Regions from separate parts of the Homo sapiens genome. Here region 2 is reported to be linked to region 1. The links are microRNA targets in miRTarBase. Many come from high-throughput screens and were not tested one by one. Region 1 holds a microRNA gene; the other region holds the end of a gene's coding sequence.

What was found. The annotated mature microRNA hsa-let-7i-3p reads CUGCGCAAGCUACUGCCUUGCU and lies in region 1 at 3,256-3,277, opposite strand. An mRNA with a match to its seed (bases 2 to 7 or 8) in the 3' UTR can be bound and repressed. Matches are read on the target gene's strand: a 7mer-m8 pairs with bases 2 to 8, a 7mer-A1 pairs with bases 2 to 7 and ends in A, and an 8mer does both.
Region 2: the mRNA of USP48 is a reported target of hsa-let-7i-3p. The part of its 3' UTR that is shown has no 7-base or 8-base seed match.

The regions. Positions count from the first base shown.
Region 1 is chr12:62,602,631-62,607,023 of GRCh38, reverse strand. MIRLET7I (microRNA let-7i) reads right to left here and starts at 3,338; the gene lies at 3,255-3,338. LINC01465 (long intergenic non-protein coding RNA 1465) reads left to right here and starts at 3,590. Exons shown (of 1, transcript NR_121682.1): 1 at 3,590-4,393. It overlaps MIRLET7IHG (MIRLET7I host gene), which reads right to left and starts at 4,281. Exons shown (of 2, transcript NR_186001.1): 1 at 4,189-4,281. RefSeq lists enhancers at 2,898-3,419, 3,420-3,941, 4,048-4,237, 4,318-4,393, 3,942-4,393 and silencers at 3,268-3,567, 3,658-3,967.
Region 2 is chr1:21,675,807-21,680,199 of GRCh38, reverse strand. USP48 (ubiquitin specific peptidase 48) reads left to right here. Exons shown (of 27, transcript NM_032236.8): 27 at 761-1,902. The coding sequence ends at 783. Among named protein-coding and RNA genes, the nearest start is that of RAP1GAP, 8.6 kb to the right of the region's middle.

The sequences.
Region 1 (4,393 bases):
CTCAAAAGTGAAGTAGGTCACTAATGTTTTTCTCACCTGCCCACATTTTGATTATTTATTTAATTTCTTGAGACAGAATCTCAACTATTTTGTCCAGGCAGGTCTCAAACTACTGGGCTCCAGTGACTCTCCTGCCTCAGCCTCCAGAGTACCTGGGATTATAGGTGCACATCACTGCACTGAGCTCACATTGATTTTTTTTTTTTTTTGACAGTCTCACTCTGTTGCCCAGGCTGCAGTGGTGCAATCATGGCTCACTGCAGCCTCAAAGTCCTGGGCTCATGAGATCCTCCCACCTCAGCGGGGACTACAGGCAGGCACCACCACACTCAGCTAATTACATTTTGATTCTTAAACACTTCATGTGACATCTTTCCTGTTTTCCTTTGGGGCAATGACCTAGCTATACAATTATTTTGCTTTCCCCATGGTGCCCAATAGTGATAACCTAACAAAAACACTTAGTGAACTTCATTAGACAATCTTAGAAATAATTTTCAAATTTTTGCTTAATTATCTAGATTATCAGTAGCGCCAACAGCTTTTCAGAGTTTATGACAATGGTCATTAATTCTCCTTTTGGGTACTACCAATCTGGCCTAATTCATTTTCGAAGATGATTGTCCTATTTACCTTTTGTTGTAGAAATTACAGAGGGGATTATTCAGTGGGAAAGGAAATTAATAGTATCTCCTTTGTCAGCTTCACCATGGAGCGGGTGGAGTGTAATAAACAATAGCGGGAGAGAGCATGTAGCTAGGAAGAAATCTCAGCCTTTTTGGTGCTTTGTGCTTATACACTGAAGAGCTAATTTGTGCTGTCAGGTGCCTCTGTCAGGAATTCTTTGGGGACCACTCCACAAGACACAATGTCTTGAGTGCACCCTTGCCAGTCAGTCTTGCCTACCTGCCAAAAGGTTATTTTAAAATAGCTTGTAAACAAAGCTTTTCTATGTAAGATTAGCAATCAGGAATTTTAAAGTATGAAGCAAAACTGTGTTCTCCAAGAATCTTCTCCATATGGTGTGTCCTATATACCATAACACAGTCTCCATTTCCAATTGAGGATGACATTTATTAAAATGTTATTACCATAACCCAGCTTTCCTTTGGTTTAGTATGTACTTATTGAGAAGGGCACTCAAAATACTGCCTTATTACTTTCCACCAGTGGCTTTTTACAACTACAAATTACTTAAATGCTTGACAACAGACCTTTAACAAAAAAGTTAACTGCACCAAGTAAATGTCAATAATACTAAGTTCAGAAAGCTGTATTTTTGATAAATCAAATTCATCTTGTGGGAAACTGTCAACAAGGAAAATGTTCAGTTGGTAATTTTCAGTTGGTGTGTAGAGAAATGTAATTAGCAGATCATTTTTAAAACTGGAGATTAGAGCAGAAATATAGCTATGGGATTAAAACAAGTCAGCTGGTGGCAGTATTTTCTCTTGTAACTTAGGAAACAGTTAACCTCTCAAAGTACCTTTACATCCAATAACTCAAAAATGTTACTACTATTTGGGCAATATGTAGTTGTGGATAAAATTTACTTTAAAAACACAAGATATAAAGTATGAATAGTTTATCTGTATAGGACATTGAGCATTTCTGGTGTGCTTATCCGCTTAAAGTTTAAATTACCAGCAGAATTTGTTATACTTTGGGGTGCAGATTAACAACCGTTGATTCTCCATAAAAATGTTAGAGTGTAGTGGGTTGGAAGATTACCTCGGTTGGTTGAATGAAGTGTTTTGGAAAATAAAATCATAATGAAATTAGCATGTTATGATTAGTTTCTCCATAAACCAAGATTTGACACAGCACCGCAGAGGTTTTCATTATTTAAGAAAACAAGCACTTAACAAAGCCCTGAATTTACTCTGCGTTGCTATCAAGAAAAGCAAACTTCAAGAGCCAACATTCAAGCATTTTCTGCATCTTAAGATTCAAGATAAGGTTCTTCACCGCCCTTCCCACAATGAGGCGGCTCCATCCTGATGAGATCAGATTAAGTAAGGTTATTCTCAAGGCTAAACCAAACCCAATCAAGGCACATATATTAGATCACTTTTGAATGATAAAAGCATCAAACTCCTGCTGAAGGGTTTGGTTGGTTTAAAGAACTGCCTTATTTGTTTTTCAACTGAGCATCAGAAAACCATAGAAAACTGCGATTACATTATATTCAAAACTACTTATTCTGTACAAATACAGATCAGTTTTCAACGAAAAGTACTAAAACTGACCACTTACTTCCCTCAGTGAAAATAAAATAAAAATACAAGTATCTTGTTTTCCACGCAGACTTCAGGGTATTAGAGCACTGAGTATTTTCATTAGTTATCCAAACTACCTTTTTTCTCTATGCAAAGGTATTTTCCTATTAGGAGTAGTGGCCACTCAGGAATCAAAATGAGTGTTAGTAGATTTTAAACTCAAATCTAGAAACCACTTTCAATTCCTAGTCCTCTTCTCCCATACAAAACCTCAAAGATGTAAGTACCACATAACATTAGAATCAAAGGCCATAAAAACCAAAAAACCAACCCACCACACCAGCAGAATCTGAGCCCCAAGGTTAAACTAAAAAGAAAAAACAAAAAACAAAACCATTCACAGCACACTGTACATAGAATTTATTTGTTTGCCTCATACATTAAAAAATCGGAATAGTGCAATTACCTACAAATAATTTCAATCTTCTCATTCGCGAGTTGCAAAGTTTAAAGAGAAACTTTAAATTGCTTTGGGTTTACGTTTTTAAAGACACACTCAGATTTACTAAGAGAGCATATCAGAAACCAGATCTAAAATGTTAAGGCATAAACTTTAATTATCAGGTCTACTTCTTCTGCCCCTCTAATGCCAGTTCTGCAGATCGCTCACACCACTCCAACCTACAGCTAAAGAATGAAGTAAAACAGGTACACACTAAATTTGGCATTTAACTGCTGAAAGAAGTGTTAGAATTTTTTAGGGTGAAAAAGTTATCTGTATCAATTATCTTACACAATTCCACTCCTTCCTTCAAGAAAAGGAATCCAATGGCTTAGCTCTTTCCCAACCTTTAAAATGCATCGCGGTCCACCCCACTCCCCTCAATTCCTTCTAGGAAAATGTGAAACTAACGGTTTCCGTGGTGGCCGCGCCGGCCGGGCGCCGAGGCTTCGCGGGCTGTCCCCAGGCAGCGCCCCGGAAAACAAAGGGGATTCCCAGCCATTGTCCTCCGCGGCGCTGAGCATCACCAGCACTAGCAAGGCAGTAGCTTGCGCAGTTATCTCCACAGCGGGCAATGTCACAACCCGACCAACAGCACAAACTACTACCTCAGCCAGGGCCATGGTGTCGGGGAGGCACGGGACCACGCGGAGGGCAGCAAAGCGGCTCCGGCGCTCCTCCGTCCTTCCTCGCCGCCGACGTCGGCCCGCCGCCCCTTCTTTTCCTTTGCCTTCCCCCCGCGCCGCGCCCGGAGACCCCGCCCAGCACCCAGCGGCTCGGCTACTCCCGGCGCGCCCCGAGAGCTACGGGGATGAGAGGCGGCGCCGGCGCCCGGGTGATACAGCCGGCGTTCTGTACGTCAGCCACCGCTCTGAAGAGAGAAAAGCGGCGGTGTCCTGCGGAGAGAGCCGCTCCCTCCACTGCCCGAGGGGAGCGCGTCGCCTCAGCCGCTCGAAAGCAGGAAATGGGCGGCAAAAGCGCAGTCAGACACCAACTGGTTCTGGACTGCCCCCGAGAGGCAGCGAGCAGCGCTCCCGCGCTTCGCCCGCTAGGAGCTGCCGCCACGTCCCGAGCTGCGCCGCTCGCGCCCCTCCCTGCTCCGAGTCCCCGGTGGGGGCTGGGCTGCGGCCGAGTCCGGTACCCGGGCCCCCACCCGCGCCGCGCTGTCGAACCCGCCGCCGGCCCGCTCTCGGCGCCGATAATCGCCGGCGGGCATCCCGCAGAGGCTGCCGCCGGCTCCGCCAAACAGCAGCCAAGGCATAGCCGGGAAGTCCCCAGGCCACCCGTTCCCCAGCACCCTTCGGGGAATTCCCGTTCAGCTCTACAGGAGGCGAAAACGGAACAAACGAAAACCCCTTAACAGTGAAACCGGGCCCGGCGATGGCCCGGGTGGCGACTGCGACGACTCGACGCGTGCGGACACAAGACCCGTCTCGCGCTCCGCTGCTCCTGTGCGTCCGGACGAACCTTAGAGATCACTTAAGGAGGCTCGCGCGCTACTCCTCACCACGTGACCGCCCCGCCAGGCCGCCCCCCGCGCCGCCATCTTACATCCGGGACAGAGGCGGCGTCCCCTTTCCCTGCCTTGGCAGGCGTCAGCGTGCTACCAGAAATCAGCCCTGAAAGAGGGGACCCCGATTCCACGTCACCAGAGTGCTGAGGCAGCGGGCGA
Region 2 (4,393 bases), not on the chromosome of region 1:
AAGCCCCTGGCAGGTTGTGATTTTCTAAGGAATGACTTTGAATCACATACCAGCTATTCCTTGCTAAAGCAAATGAGAGACAAATCTACTGGCCAAAATAAAGTCTTCCTCTTGCTGCAGCTGTGTTGTCTGCATGCTACCATTACAAAGGGACTCCTGATGGGGTCAAAACAAAGCAAAAAACGTCTTTATGAAAAATGGTCATTGGCCGGGCATGGTGGCTCACGCCTGTAATCCCAGCACTTTTGGAGGTTGAGACGGGTGGGTCACTTGAGGTCAGGAGTTCGAGACCAGTCTGGCCAACATGGTGAAACCCCATCTCTACTAAAAATACAAAAATTAGCCGGGCATGGTGGCGTGCGCCTGTAATCTCAGCTACTTGGGAGGCTGAGGCAGGAGAATGCTTGAACCTGGGAGATAAGGTTGCAGTGAGCCAGGATTGCACCACTGCACTCCAGCCTGGGCGACAAGAGTGAAACTCTCAGAAAAGAAGAATGGTCATTAAATGAAAGAATCAATAAAATCTGGTTAGTTTGTGTGAAGATACACTTAGGAAGCACATGGCTTTCAACAAAAATGTGATTTAGCGGAGAGCCTGGAGTCTGCTGGTATTTTGTCTTATCCTCCCACACCAAGGTGCGACTGTGTTCATTTATTAAATTTGATGCTCCCTGTTGATGATGTGTTCTTGGTAAATGGAATCCATGAACTTTTAATCTGTAGTTCACAACTATCCCTCCACGTGTGTTTCTTTTCCCAGGTACTGGTCTTCTTGGACATTAATCTTTGAATACTTGCTGACTGCTAAGAAATGACCAGAGGGGAAGAGGAGTTTGACATGTTAGGGCATTAAAGCAAAGGTGGATTTAAGAATTAAACCATTACATGCCCCTTCCAAAAGGCAGAAATCCATTCAAACGTGACTGTCCCAAATGCCTTATGTCAAATAAAGCAGATTGCACTGATGGACATCAGACTTGAAGGAAATGTTTCCAATTTTATATTTAAGGGGGGTGGTGGGTGGGAGGGGGCAAGTAAAGACGGAACAAGTTTAGTAGCAGTAATAGTAAATCATGTTTACATATGAGATTTATAGTCGTGGGAGGGGAATAAAGTTCTGTTATATTTCCTTGCTCGAGTTTCATACCAGATGCGTTGGTCCATAAAGGATTGTATCAAGTAGATGGGACAACATTCTGCTCTGAACGAAAAGTAATTTTAGAGACATAACCTGCTTACCAATGCCTGTCTTTGATTCATATTCTACTTTCAATAAAGCATGAAAGTGAAGAACTTGTCCTAAGTGTGGAAAAGTGTCTTCAGATTTAGACTCTTCTCCATGTCAGCTGCAGCGCCACCCGCCTTACACCTGCCCGGCCGTCTGTCTCTTGGTATTGGGTAAAGGAGGGGGCACCTGCATGTCTCCTGCAATGAGCAAGGAATTATGTCTCATGTTTTGACTTCAGAGGCTTTTTGCTTTGGTGCATTTCAGAAAGGATGGAGAACATTTATTATGTGTGAAAGCATCCTCTTCCGGTTTTGCTGTTATTCAAAAGTGGGAAATGTACCTGGCACGTTTGAAAATAAAAAATCTGACTACCTATCAGAAGAGTAAATCAGACTGAAGTACATTTGGATAACACAAGGTTTCTATAAAATTTGTTCTTCCTGTCCTCCATGTCACTGTTTCTTGGACCTCAGTTCTCTTTTTGAAAGCATTATTCCAAAATGCCCTGAGAGGGTCTCTTAGATCATTGTTTAAAAAAGGAAAAAAGTATATGGATGTGCTGTCCATCCAACTCAGGATTATCATTCTTAGCAACACGTAACCGAAGCAATATTCTTAAGAATATTGAAGGGGTTTTTTTAATTGAACTTAAGACTGGAGTTTTTCCTTTGAAAAAAAAAAAAAAGTTTTCTCTGTTGAGTCCGTCTGTGTAAGTTTGTGGCTGAGATGCTAGCTTAGGCATCTCTCTTGTTAACACTTTTCTTGGCCTTGGGTTTGTGCAAGGCTTTTTCCCCCTTTCATGAAAATGTGAACTCAGATCATGGATGGGGAAGGCAGATTTTGATTTGAGACCCGATAACCTTGGCAGCATCCCTTTTGAATAGCTCCTTTTGTCAGAGTAATTACGGCCATTTGGTAAAATTCTAACTTCGTGTTTGTGTTTCCCCTCTGTGTTTCTAATGTCTTCAGTCTGTGTCCCCTGAGGAGGCAGGGGGTCTCTAATGAGCCTATCTATGGGGGAAGGTGAGAGCTGCACACAGCCCCCTGAGAAACCATCCTAGGAGTGGAACCAAGGGACCAACTGTTCTGGCCTTGAGGTTGGCACAGGGGAAGGACTTGAAGTTGAGCTGATGGATCCTGATTTTTAGATCTCATTGTTTTATTAGCTCCAAAGAAATGAATGCAGGAGCCTAAAACTAATAACACAAACTTCTTCTTTCCCAAGGTAAAGACTTTTATAAAAGTTCGCACAATGCTTGATTGAAGCCACTTCCTTTTCCTTACAAAGAAGCTTGTTGGCCAGAGAAGGTTCTTTTTGGGGATTGACATAAACATGTTAGCAGCCCCCAGAAATCTGATATATTTTCCCCAATTTGCTGTTGATAACAGTTTTGAAATTTGTTACTTGGGTATTTTTTCCTCCTGCAATGCTACGAAATAACAGCCTTTTGTAAATCTTTCAGGCTGGTGGTACCTGCTCTGAGTACTGGCTTCTTTATTATCTCTGTCCAGGGGTGGGGTGGGCACCGAGTGAGCAGGTGATGCTGCAAGAGTCTGCCCTTGGCTCAGGGTCATCTTCCTCCTGCTCTGACAACTTGCCTTGTTCTGCCAGCACTGCTGAAAGTAACTGCAGCCCAGCGGCTCCAGTGACACTGTGAAGCTTTATTACCAAGGCAGGAGCTCAGGCCCTAGACCCGCTGAATCGGAATCTGCATCCACAGGCCACTCCTGTACTCTTTGAAACCCTGGGCTTGGGGCCTCTCCCACCCATAGTAGGCAGAGTTGCAAAGAAACGTATGCTTGTATTGAATGGTTTTGCATTGCCACCCTTCTCACTTGGTACAGGGAAAAACAGGTAAAGGGTATGACCTAAAGCCCGATTCTCGTTTCGTCTGTAATTATGAATAGATGGAGTCCATTTGCCTTCTGGACTGTGAAAAGTTCAGAGACTCTTTGTGTTGGGGTTCTAATGCCATGCATGTGTACTTTTTTATATTAGATCAGTCTCCGGTATAAGGTATTATGAAGCTTGGGTCTTTTCCCCTTGATATTTCTGACCATTCTTTAATCTGAAACGAATGTGTTCAGCATACTACACTGGTACAGATTGTCACCACGAACTGAAATATAGGCTGCATTTGGGTGTCTTCATTTCCTGGGGAGTAAGTATCTTTCTGTGTATTTATGAACTCTATTGTTTAGAATTACTGTTACCTTCCTGCCAAATTTAAAAGATATGAGTGTCCCTTTATTTCTGTGGGAGCATAATCCATAGTGAATTTTTTGGTTATTTTAAATGTGCTTTTGGTTGGTCTATGTGGTCATAGATCTGTTCATCAGACTCTGGTTAATATTGGAATCTAATGCTCAGGTTGAATAACCTGTTTTAAAAACCCAAGGGATGATTTATCTCTGTCTAAACAAACCGCTGAAGCGAAATGAGCAAGAAAGCCTGTCTTTCCTGTTACCGAATCATGGGGCAGAATCATATCCTTTCTCTTGGGTACTTTAGTCCTCAGCTCATTCAGTGTTAATAGGGGACTGCGAACAGAGTGCATGCAGATTAAAAGCCAGCGTTTTCATTTTAAGAAGATTTTCCCAGCCTGAGAAACATAGTGAGACTTCATCTCTATAAAAAAGCAAAAATTAGCCAGGTATGCCGGTGGTCCCAGCTACTCTGGAGGCTGAGGCAGGATAATTGCTTGACCCCAGGAGGTCGAGGCTGCGGTGAGCTGTGATCACACCACTGCACTCAGCTTGGGCGACAGAGTGAGACCTTGTCACAAAAAAAAAATGTGCATGTCTGTGATAACGCCCCATACTCCCACCCCCACCCCAGAGTACAGGGTTTTGTCAACAACATTTCTACTTCTGAAAGCTGGCATCACCACCCCCACCCAAAACACACACACACGCGCGCGCGCACACACACACACACACACACACACCCATCTCCTAGACATTCTGTAGGCAGAAATACTGGCTGGGGATTTATCAACATTATTCGAACCCTCTATTTTTCATTAAAGTACAAATTATAAACATTTGTAAAATGGTAGGTAGCACTTTGTTGATTTCCCTGAGCAACATTTCTGTGTCAGGTAGTGTGTGCCAGGTAGACAGTCTCATTGGCAGACAAAACCACTTCTCCATCCCATATATCTC